Regions from separate parts of the Homo sapiens genome. Here region 2 is linked to region 1. Evidence: fine-mapped QTL for protein levels in blood plasma. A gene starts in region 1. The other region holds a variant in brackets. All regions are shown on one strand. Distances are between the middles of the regions.

Region 1 (5,494 bases):
GATTTGCTTATCCTGGACATTTCATATAAGTGGAATCATGCAGTGTGTGATCTTTTGTGACTGACTTCTTTTACTTAGCTTCATGTGTTCAAGGTTCATCCATGTTGTAGTATCAGTGCTTCTTTTGATGGCTGAATAATATTTCACGGCATGGATATACCACATATTCTTTATCCATTCATCAGTTGCTGGACATTTGGGCTGTTTTCACTCTTTGGCCATTATAACTAATTCTTCTGTGAATATTCACATATAAATTTTTATGTAGACACATGATTTTAACTCTCTTGGGTGGGTATTTGCCTAGGAATGCAATTACTCAGTCGTATGGGAACTCCACATTTAACCTTTTGACGAACTGCCAGGCTGTTTTCCAAATTGGCCACCTCACTTTACCTCCCCAGCAACAGTATGTGAGGGTTCCAGTGTTTCCACATCTTCATCAACAGTTGTTATTGTCCTTTTCATTTCAGCCATTGGAGTGGGTGTGAAGAGGTATCTCAGTGTGGTTTTCATTTGCATTTCCAATAGCTAATGATATGGAGCAGATGTTCCTAGGCACCTTTGCTGTTGGTACATCTTCTCTGGAGATATGTCTGTTCAAATTCTTTATCCCATGCTTAAACTGGGTTATTTTACTTTTTTCTTTCTATCTTTCTTTCGTTTTTTGAGAAAGGTCTTGCTCTGTCACCCAGACTGGAGTACAGTGGCACGAACACGACTCACCAGAGCCTCAAACTCCTGGGCTCAAGCTATCCTCCCACCTCAACCTCCCAAAGTGCTGGTATTACAGGCTAAAGTGGGTTATTTTTCTTTTTATTGTTTGGTTTTAAGAGTTTTTGACATATTCTAAATAAAAGTTCCTTGTCAGATATGTCTTTGCAAATATTTTTCCCATGCTGTGGCTTGTCTTTTCACTTCCTTGTATTTTATTTTATTTTATTTCAGACAGAGTCTTGCTCTGTTGACCAGGCTGGAGTGCAGTGGCACGATCTCAGCTCACTGCAACCTTCGCCTCCCGAGTTCAAGCCATTCTCCTGTCTCAGCCTTTGAGTAGCTGGGATTACAGGCACCTGCCACCACACCTGGCTAATTTTTGTGTTTTTTAGTAGAGACAGGGTTTCACCATGCTGGTCAGGCTGGTCTTAAACTCCTGACCTCAGGTGATCTGCCTACCTTGGCTTCCCAAAGTGCTGGGATTAGAGACGTGAGCCACTGCATCCGGTCTTTTTTCACTTTCTTCATGGTATCCTTTGAAGCACAAAAGCTTTTAATTTTGGTGAAATCCAGTTTATCTATTTTTTTCTTTTGTTGTGTCTGCTTTTGTATCTTATTGAAGAAACCATTGGGTAGGTGCGGCGGCTCATGCCTGTAATCCCAGCTCTTTGGGAGGCCAAGGTGGGTGGATCACCTGAGATCAGGAGTTCGAGACCAGCCTGGCCAACATGGCAAAACCCCATCTCTAGTAAAAATATAAAACTTAGCCGGGTGTGGTGGCACACGCCTGTAATCCCAACTTCTCGGGAGGCTGAGGCAGGAGAATCGCATGAATCCAGGAGGCAGGGGAGTTGGCAGTGAGCTGAGATCATACCACTGCACTCCAGCCTAGGCGACAGAGTAAGATTCTGTCTCAAAAAAAAAAAAAAAAAAAAAGAAAGAAACAAAATGAAGGTCATGAAGATTTATGCCTATGTTTTCTTCTAAGAATTTTATAGTTTTGCCTCTTACTTTTAGGTCTTTGATCCCATTGGAATTCATTTTTGTCTATGCTGCGAGGCATTCTTTTGCATGTGGATATGCACCACTTATTGAAAGGCTGATCTTTTCCCCGCTGAATTGTCTTGACACTCTTGTCAAAAATCAATTGACCCTAAATGCGAGAGTTTATTTTTGACTCTCAATTCTATTAAATTGATCTGTATGTCTCTAATATTTTTTAAAATAACTTTTTCTGCCTGCATTTGTACAGAATAAAACGTTTGTAAATATAGAAACACAGAATAAAAGTAAGAGAAACACTAACCCTGCCGTGGTAGAATGAACTGTTGGTCCCATTTCTTCACTCCCCACTAGGAGTTGTCCATGTCCACATCCTTATCATGGCCTTATCATGGTGGAATGTACTTTGGGCTTCGTCCATTTGACTCCGGGCTTGGCCATGCAATTTGCTCAGCCTCTTGAGATGTCAGGGAATGTGACATGAGCAGATGCTTGATGCGTGCTTGTGCAGTTGGTCCTGCTCTCTTGCACTTTTGCTGTCACCATAAAAAGATTATGCCCTGGGTAGCCACTGGTTCCAAATGAATGGCAGATACTTGGAACAAATCTGAACTCACTTTGTGATCTGGATCCCAGCCCAAGATTAAGCAGACCCCAGTCAAAACTCAGACACATGGGCTACAAATACATGCCTATCACAGTTTACCACTGAGGGTTCTGTGGTTGCTTGTTCTGTAGCAATAGCTGACTAATACACCTACCACTTAGAGATAACTATTCCTGTTAGTCTGATCTTCTGACCAAAAATAAGACTGTAAAAAAAAATTACATGTGTGTATACCCTCCTGTTGTTTTTACTTAACATTTTTTCATAATACCCTATGTTATTAAAAGTTCTTGATTGGCTCATACCTGTAATCCCAGCACTTTGGGAGGCCAAGGTGGGAGGATCACAAGCCAGGAGTTTGAGACCACCCTGGCCAACATGGTGAAACCCTCTCCCTACTAAAAATACAAAAATTATCTGGCATGGTGGCACATGCCTGCAATCCCAGCTACTCCGGGGGCTAAGGCACGAGAATCACTTGAACCCAGGAGGCAGAGACTGCAGTGAGCCGAGATCCTGCCACTGCACTCCAGCCTGGGTGACAGGGCACCACCCTGTCTCAAAAGAAAAAAAAAAGTTATTGATAAACATTCCTTTTGACATCCACATCACATATTTCAACCTTGAGCAGTTACATATTTCTCTTCACCATTCCTATAGTACTTTTACTATTTTACTATTGTAAAGGTACAATGAATTTTGCTCTCTTTTGTATAAATCTTGATCTACATTTTTCCATTATTTCCATGGAATCAAGTTCTAGAAGTTGATACCTTTAATAAGCTCCTTTAACCAAAGTTCATGGTAGAGCCACTGAACCATGATTTTCGTTTTATTACTATTCATATTTCTATTTGGCTAAACTCACATTGTTTTGCTTAAAGGATGCAGACACATTTAATTTCACTTTTTAAAAAAACGACTTTTGTGAATTCTTCCAGCATGTTCTATCATACTGTCTTTGGACGTTTACACTTTATTATAAAGAATTAAATTATTGCCATAAAAAACCAAACAGGCCTCGCTCAGTGGCTCACGTCTGTAATCCCAGCACTTTGGGAGGCCGAGGTGGGTGGATCACCTGTCAGGAGTTCAAGACCAGACTGACCAGCGTGGTGAAACCCCATCTCTACTAAAAATACAAAAAAATTAGCTGGGTGTGGTGGCGGGGGCCTGTAATCCCAGCTACTCAGGAGGCTGAGGCAGGAGAATCGGTTGAACCCGGGAGGTGGAGGTTGTGGTGAGCTGAGATCGCGCCATTGCACTCCAGCCTAGGCAACAAGACTGAAATTCCATCTCAAAACAAACAAACAACCCCCCCGCAACCCCCCGCCAGAAAAAAAAAAAGTCCCTGCCTCTCATTTTTTCGTTTGTGCTTATACAGAAACATAGAGACAGTGTTTCTGTATGAGCATGTGTTTGCTTTGTTTGTTTGTTTGTTTTTATTGGCGTAGTTAATTAAAGATCATATACCCAGGAAGGTGGTATGGAAGGAGCAGCCAGATCTAATTTTCTTTATACCCTTCACCGCGCCTAGCATAGTGCATAGGTGCATTCAATGAATATTTGAGTAAATGAATGTAAGAAATATACAGACCATTGGCTGAGTGTGGTGGCTCACACCTGTAATCCCAGAACTTTAAGAGGCCAAGGCGGGTGCATCACTTGAGGTCAGGAATTTGAGACAAGCCTGGCCAACATGGTGAAACCCCATCTCTACCAAAAATACAAAAAATTAGCCAGGCGTGGTGGCGGGTGCCTGTAATCCCAACTACTCGGGAGGCTGAGGCAAGAGAATCGCTTGAACCTGGGAGGCAGAGGTTGCAGTGAGCAGAGATTGCGCCACTGCACTCCAGCCTGGGCGACAGAGTGAGACTTCATCTCAAAAAATATACATATATATATACGGAGAGAGGCCATTAAAGCAGGCTTTTAAGCCAGAAATTACTGTCTTCCCAATGATTAATAAGTATTTTTAAGGTTTCATTAGTGACAAATATGTTACATGTATAAACAGATGGGCAGGACTTAAAAGAGTAGGCCAGATAGTTGATACTATATCTAAACTTTTCTGGGTGCCTCTTAGCAAATAAATGGATCTCTCTCTGTTCCTTGTTTTACTTCCCCTTTCCCCGAGGAAAATCACATTTTTCAGGTCTGACAACAATTTTCAACCTGATAACAATTGCTCCGGTTTCATTTTGGCAACTGCTAAAATGGTCACCTTGGGAACCCCAGGCACACACGCTGACTGTACTTGCACAGCTTCTACACTGAGCCTTTTGGAAATTGCCTCCAGGAAGCCTGTCTCTCATCTCACAAACAGAACCACTGATCCAACCTGGGCCACCATCTTTCTGCATCTGCTCTGTCTGAGACTCTCCCAGTCAGCTCCTAAGGAGACAGGGAATCCTGCATCACTCATCGCTTAGGCTAGACTGAAGGTCTCCTTCCAAAGGCAACTACTTACTACTCTCTGCCGTGGGTCATACAATAAGCACTACTCTTATCTATTCACACGCTAAGCTACTTTTTTAAAGCCAGCTTTGCTAGCTAGCCACCTCGAAATTCCCCAGAAGGAATCAAACAGAAATGGAACAAAGGACAGGAAAAGCCAAGGAGGTTTGCTGAAATTGAAGCATTCTGAAGACAGCTGGGTGGTAAAATGGATGTGACGTGAGGAAGGTGGTCTTGGGTGCACCCACAGACCAACACTGCCATTGTTACAATTTGTGTAGGATGATCTCAGGTGACAGACAGCAGCAATTTATCACACCCAGAAACGCATCCCCCACACATATTTACTTGAGGGTACCAGACCTGCTCACAAAGCAGAGAAGAGCTAAGGCGGTTCTCTAAGGGCAGAGAATTGCTGCTATTGCCTAGTGAGTGGGGAGAGGGTACTCCTCAGGCCTTACTTCCTATCAAATCATGTGTCAGTGTTGCCTAGGAGACAGAGGCACAGTAACTACTGTAGCCAAACAAGGCACATAAACAAAACAGAAATGCAACGCTTTAGAGTACCCACGGAAAACTTGTTTACCTTGTCACCATGAGTAAAAGTTAATTCCCACTCCTGAAGAGAGCAAACCAACTCTGAAAGAGAGTGAAAATGCAGACAAGACAGTTATCAGATAATGGCTATCTGGACGAGAGATTCTTTCGTTT
Region 2 (5,000 bases), 18 kb after region 1:
AGGGGTAAAATTTCCCCCAGTTGAGAATCACTGCACCAGAAAAAGTGAATTTAGCTGCTTAAAAGAGACCATTTAATCCTTCATGAGTTCTGACAGGTTTTGTGAAATTTCTGCCCCTGGGTCCTGTGATGGACTAGTGCCACCCCAGGTGATTTGAGTCCCTTCCCTATAGAATAGCCTCTCTTAGCTGTTCACAGGCAGCACGTTTCCCATCCAGAAGCCCTTCTTCTCCCAGGCTAACATCTCTCTCTCTCTGAATTTCTCACTGTTCTGGCCCATCTCCTGGATGTTCTGCAGCTCGAATATCTCTCAGTGTGCAATTCTCAGCTCTAAAAATTCTATTCGTGGTTTTGTCTGCTCAGTTCTCAATAGAGAAGACACTCTCCCTCATCCCAGATAGTTCTATTAGTGAAACTCATCAGGCGCTCTCACATGGCATTCTTAGTTATGGAGATTCCAGATTTCAATGGTGGGTGGTTATTATGGGCTGTGGGGCCAGACTGCCTGGATTTGGATCCTGGCTCCACCACTGGCTGAGTGACCTTGGACAAGCTGATCATTCCTTTGTGCCTAATCTTCTTATCTGAAACAATGGAGAGGAATCAATACTTCCTGTGCAGTCTTCGTGAGAATTGTGTTACTAATGATAAAGCACTTAGAACAGTGCCTGGCATAAAGGTTTAATAAATACACTACAATATTATTTAGAAGGTATGATTTGGCTGTGACATATCTATATCCAATGGAATATAACTTTGTGTAAAGAATCATAGCCCTTACTAAAGAGGTTATGCAATTCTCTCCAGTAATATATTTCTTAGGTGAACTAAAAATGTCACTTTCATGAAAATAGGCAATAAAAGATGCCGAGGAAGACCTAGGAAACAATGATATTAATATGAAAATGGATATGATCTAGTACAGACCACAGGAATTCATTTTTCTTTTATGATTTTCATTTTATTGAGGCTGATTCCTAGGATTACTAAAATAAATAAGTACTTTCTTGGTTAAGAATTTTCTTCATAGGGTATAGGAGGCTCTGAAGCCAGTGGATCCCACTCCTAGCTTTTCCCTATTAATTGTGAGATCTAAGTCATATTACCTAAGACAAGGACACTCATTAAGAATTCATTTCCCCTCACCTCACCGGACCATAAGACAATCAAGTGAGATCTCAAGGGAAAGGACATTAGAGTCCTAAGTAAAGACAAATTTAGCCCAATCCACTCTTCTTCTTCTTCTTCTTCTTTTTTTTTTTTTGAGACAGATTTCTTGCTCTGTCACCCAGGTTGGAGTGCAGTGGCGCGATCTCGGCTCACTGCAAGCTCCGCCTGCTGGGTTCACGCCATTCTCCTGCCTCAGCCTCCTGAGTAGCTGGGACTACAGGCGCCCACCACCACGCTCAGCTAATTTTTTGTATTTTTAGTAGAGAGGGGGTTTCACCACGTTAGCCAGGATGGTTTCGATCTCCTGACCTCGTGATCCACCCGCCTCGGCCTCCCAAAGTGCTGGGATTACAGGCGTGAGCCCCCACGCCCTGCCCCAATCCATTCTTTTTGATGCAAAAGAAAACTGAAGCTTCCTGCTCCAGCCCCCAAACAAACAAAAACCAAAAGACGCAGTAAACAAAATGAAATTAAAATTAAAAACTGAATCTCAGAAAGGGGAAGTGATTTGTTCAGGGCCACATACCTACTGGGAAGAGGCAAGGCTTGGTGGAAGGTCCAGGGAAATGTTCTCTCAGTGGTCAGGTTTATTCTGGGCCTGGTACAACTTGAGTAGTAAAGGGGGATGGTGGGTGAGTCTTGCAATGAGCTGAGGGGGGGAAGTAATTCAAGCATTCAACTCTATTTGGAGTAGTAATCCTTGTAGTTTCCAGAAAGGGTCTCTTCTTCTTCAGCACTATAAG[A/T]CAAGAGTATTATGGGAGGCCACCGGCTTCCTGTGGCTTGGAGATCAGTTGATTAAGACCTGATGGTAAATATTTGAAAAAAGCGTATCTTAGAAATGCCTTGAGAAGTGTGGGTGGATTGGAATTATCAGCTTTGATCACTGATTCTAAAAAAAAAATCACTGATCTTTCGTTCCCTAACTTAGATCAAATAAATCCTCCACTGAATGTCACAGCAGAGATTGAAGGAACTCGTCTCTCTATCCAATGGGAGAAACCAGTGTCTGCTTTTCCAATCCATTGCTTTGATTATGAAGTAAAAATACACAATACAAGGAATGGATATTTGCAGGTAATTACTCAGATTATTCCAATATTTGATAACAGACATTTGTTTTAGAAACATTTAAAAAATTATCTTCAGTGACTGCAACCAAGTTACAGCTTGGTACTAACAAGGTCAAAGTTAACTTAATCTACCCAGGTATTATAGATATAACCAAATAGATATAAACCAAATCTTACTGGCCTTTTGTTTTGAAAGAACATACTTTTGGTTGAAACTAATACAAAGGATTAGATACAGACTCATTGGTACTAGTGCTGGTTAAAATCTAAAATGATAGACGGGTGGGGTGACTCACGCCTGTAATCCTAGCACTTTGGGAGGCCAATGTGGGTGGATCACCTGAGACCAGGAGTTCAAGACCAGCCTGGCCAACATGGTGAAACCCCATCTCTACTAAAAATACAAAAATCAGCCAACGTGATGGCGCGTGACTATAATCCCAGCTACTCGGGGGCAGGGGCTGAGGCAGGAGAATCACTTCAACCAGGGAGGCGGAGGTTGCAGTAAGCTGAGATGGCGCCACTGCACTCCAGCCTGGGTGACAGAGCAACATTTCATCTAAAAAAACAAAAACAAAAAAACAAAAAACTAAAATAATGCAGCTACTATAAAAACGATATGATGAATTCTCAAAAAATTAGAAATAGAATTCCCATACGATCCAACAATTCCACTGCTGATTACATATACAAAAGAATCGAAAGCAAGGATTCAAAGAGATGTTTGTACACCCATGTCCATAGCAGCATTATTCACAATAGCCAAAAGCTGGAAGCAACCCAAGTGCCCATTAAATGAATGGATAAGCAAAATGCAGCATATACATATAATAGGATATTATCCAGCATTAAAAGGAAGGAGATTCTGACACATGCTACCACATGGAGGAGCCTTGAGGACATTATGCTAAGCAAAATAAGTCAGTCACGAAAGGACAAATACTGTCTGATTCTACTTTTATGAGGTTAAATAGTCAAACTCATAGAAACAGGGTAGGATGGTGGTTACCAGGAATTGGTAGGAGGGTGGAAGGAGAGGTATTGTTTAATGGGTACAGAGTTCCAGTTTTGCAAGATTAAAAGAGTGTTGAACATTGGTGACACAACAATGTGAAACTATTTAATATCACAAAGCTGTACACTTAAAAAGGATTAAGATGGTAAATTTCATTATATGTATTTTACAATTAAAAAAACTCATTAGCACTAATAGACAAAAATTTCAAGGGGAAAGGAACTGAGAAGAAAGCCAATCAACATTTCTTGAGCATCAATTATGTGTCAAGCTTTATTATGTGTTTATTCCATCCTCACATAATTCTATGATGTAATTACCATTCCCATTTTATAGGAAAGTGAGGCAAAAGAGATGAAGTAACTCTCCCACAGTCACAAAGCTAGGAAAAAAAATAGGATTCCAACTTATGTCTTACAGAGAGTAGACAAAGCCAATTCAATTAGATTCAACAAATATTTACAAATTGGCTTCTTTGTGAGAAATAAGACTGTTTCTGCCATGGAGTGACCCAATCTTGTGACATACTTGCCCAGCCTTGGGGTTGCCCTCCCACAGGAAAAGCCAGTACAGCTAGAGATGGGGGTGTGGGCACAGAGCCTGCTCTGCAGAGAGGAATTGAACGGAATCTGTAAGGATGAAGAGAAACTAGTCTGGTGAGAAAACATGAGAAGGACTTTCTTAGCCAGAGCTTCCCAAAATACTTACACTGAAGGACTGTGTGTGCACGTGTGTGTGCGTGTGTTTTTATAATGTCTAATCTACCATAGATTGGTGCTTTTGTCAAATACAATAAAAATGATCTGCTAGAAAAAATTAAATATAGCCAAAGACATGTAAAGTGTCAGTTCACTGATCATGTGTTTGGATATCATGGCAATGTCAAATTGCTATCAAAACTTCCAAATTGCAGTCATAATTTTATCTGTATTTAGCCCATCACAAGCCAGTAATAAATAGTTCCTGACTTGCACCAGCCTAGGAAAAGGAGTAACTTTATGCTTGAGAGAGTATGGTTCTTTCAGTCAAGTGGCAAGTAATTCAGTCTGCCTGGATGCCTGGACATAAGACCAATGCTGAAATCATGACTCTGTATCTGACATTGTGATTTCTCCCAGAGTGGCTCTATAAGATTTTGCTAAAAAATAAAGAAGTGGCTTCTTTTTTAAAAACCATGACTCTGGGCAATGGATGCCACTGAAGAGTTTTACACAATAGAGAAATATGTCTACATTTGCAGAGTAAAAGAAGATTTTTGGTAGCAGCATGAAAACTGGATGTGAGTGGGGAGGGGCGACATGGACATATGATATCAGTTAGCGGCTACTGCAAAGGTCCAAGCAAAAGATAATAAGAGCTAAAATAGGCAATGGTCACAGGGCTGGAGTAAAAAAGGGAGAAACACCTCCGGGGGTATTCAAGATACAGGTGTCAGGAGCACATCTCTGGTACAGGGGACTAGCTGGATGGTGGCGACCATGATCAGTAGAAGGAAAAAGAAGAAGGGCTCATTCATGAGAAAATAGCTTCATTTCAACACTAGACAATCTAGCGTTCATGTGACATTATTTAGTAATGTGACTATAGATTATGGAGAGACAAGGTGAGGGAATAATGCATTCTAGCATAGGCCACTCCAGTCTTTCAGTCTGGAAACATCAGCTGGGCCTGGATAGGAACACCTGGATCTTGACCGTTGATCATTTCGTATATTTTGGTTACAAGATAGCGTTCCACTGAAGGGTG

Evidence for each region. PIP is the posterior inclusion probability: the model's chance that the variant is causal. Sun 2018 read protein levels with aptamers (SomaScan).
Region 2: its variant is fine-mapped to the plasma level of the IL5RA protein (Sun 2018, PIP 0.95).

The regions. Positions count from the first base shown.
Region 1 is chr3:3,110,199-3,115,692 of GRCh38, reverse strand. IL5RA (interleukin 5 receptor subunit alpha) reads left to right here and starts at 5,319. Exons shown (of 12, transcript NM_175726.4): 1 at 5,319-5,494.
Region 2 is chr3:3,092,542-3,097,541 of GRCh38, reverse strand. IL5RA (interleukin 5 receptor subunit alpha) reads left to right here. Exons shown (of 12, transcript NM_175726.4): 8 at 2,098-2,243. Among named protein-coding and RNA genes, the nearest start is that of IL5RA, 15 kb to the left of the region's middle. The variant A/T (reference allele first, on the strand shown) is at 1,913.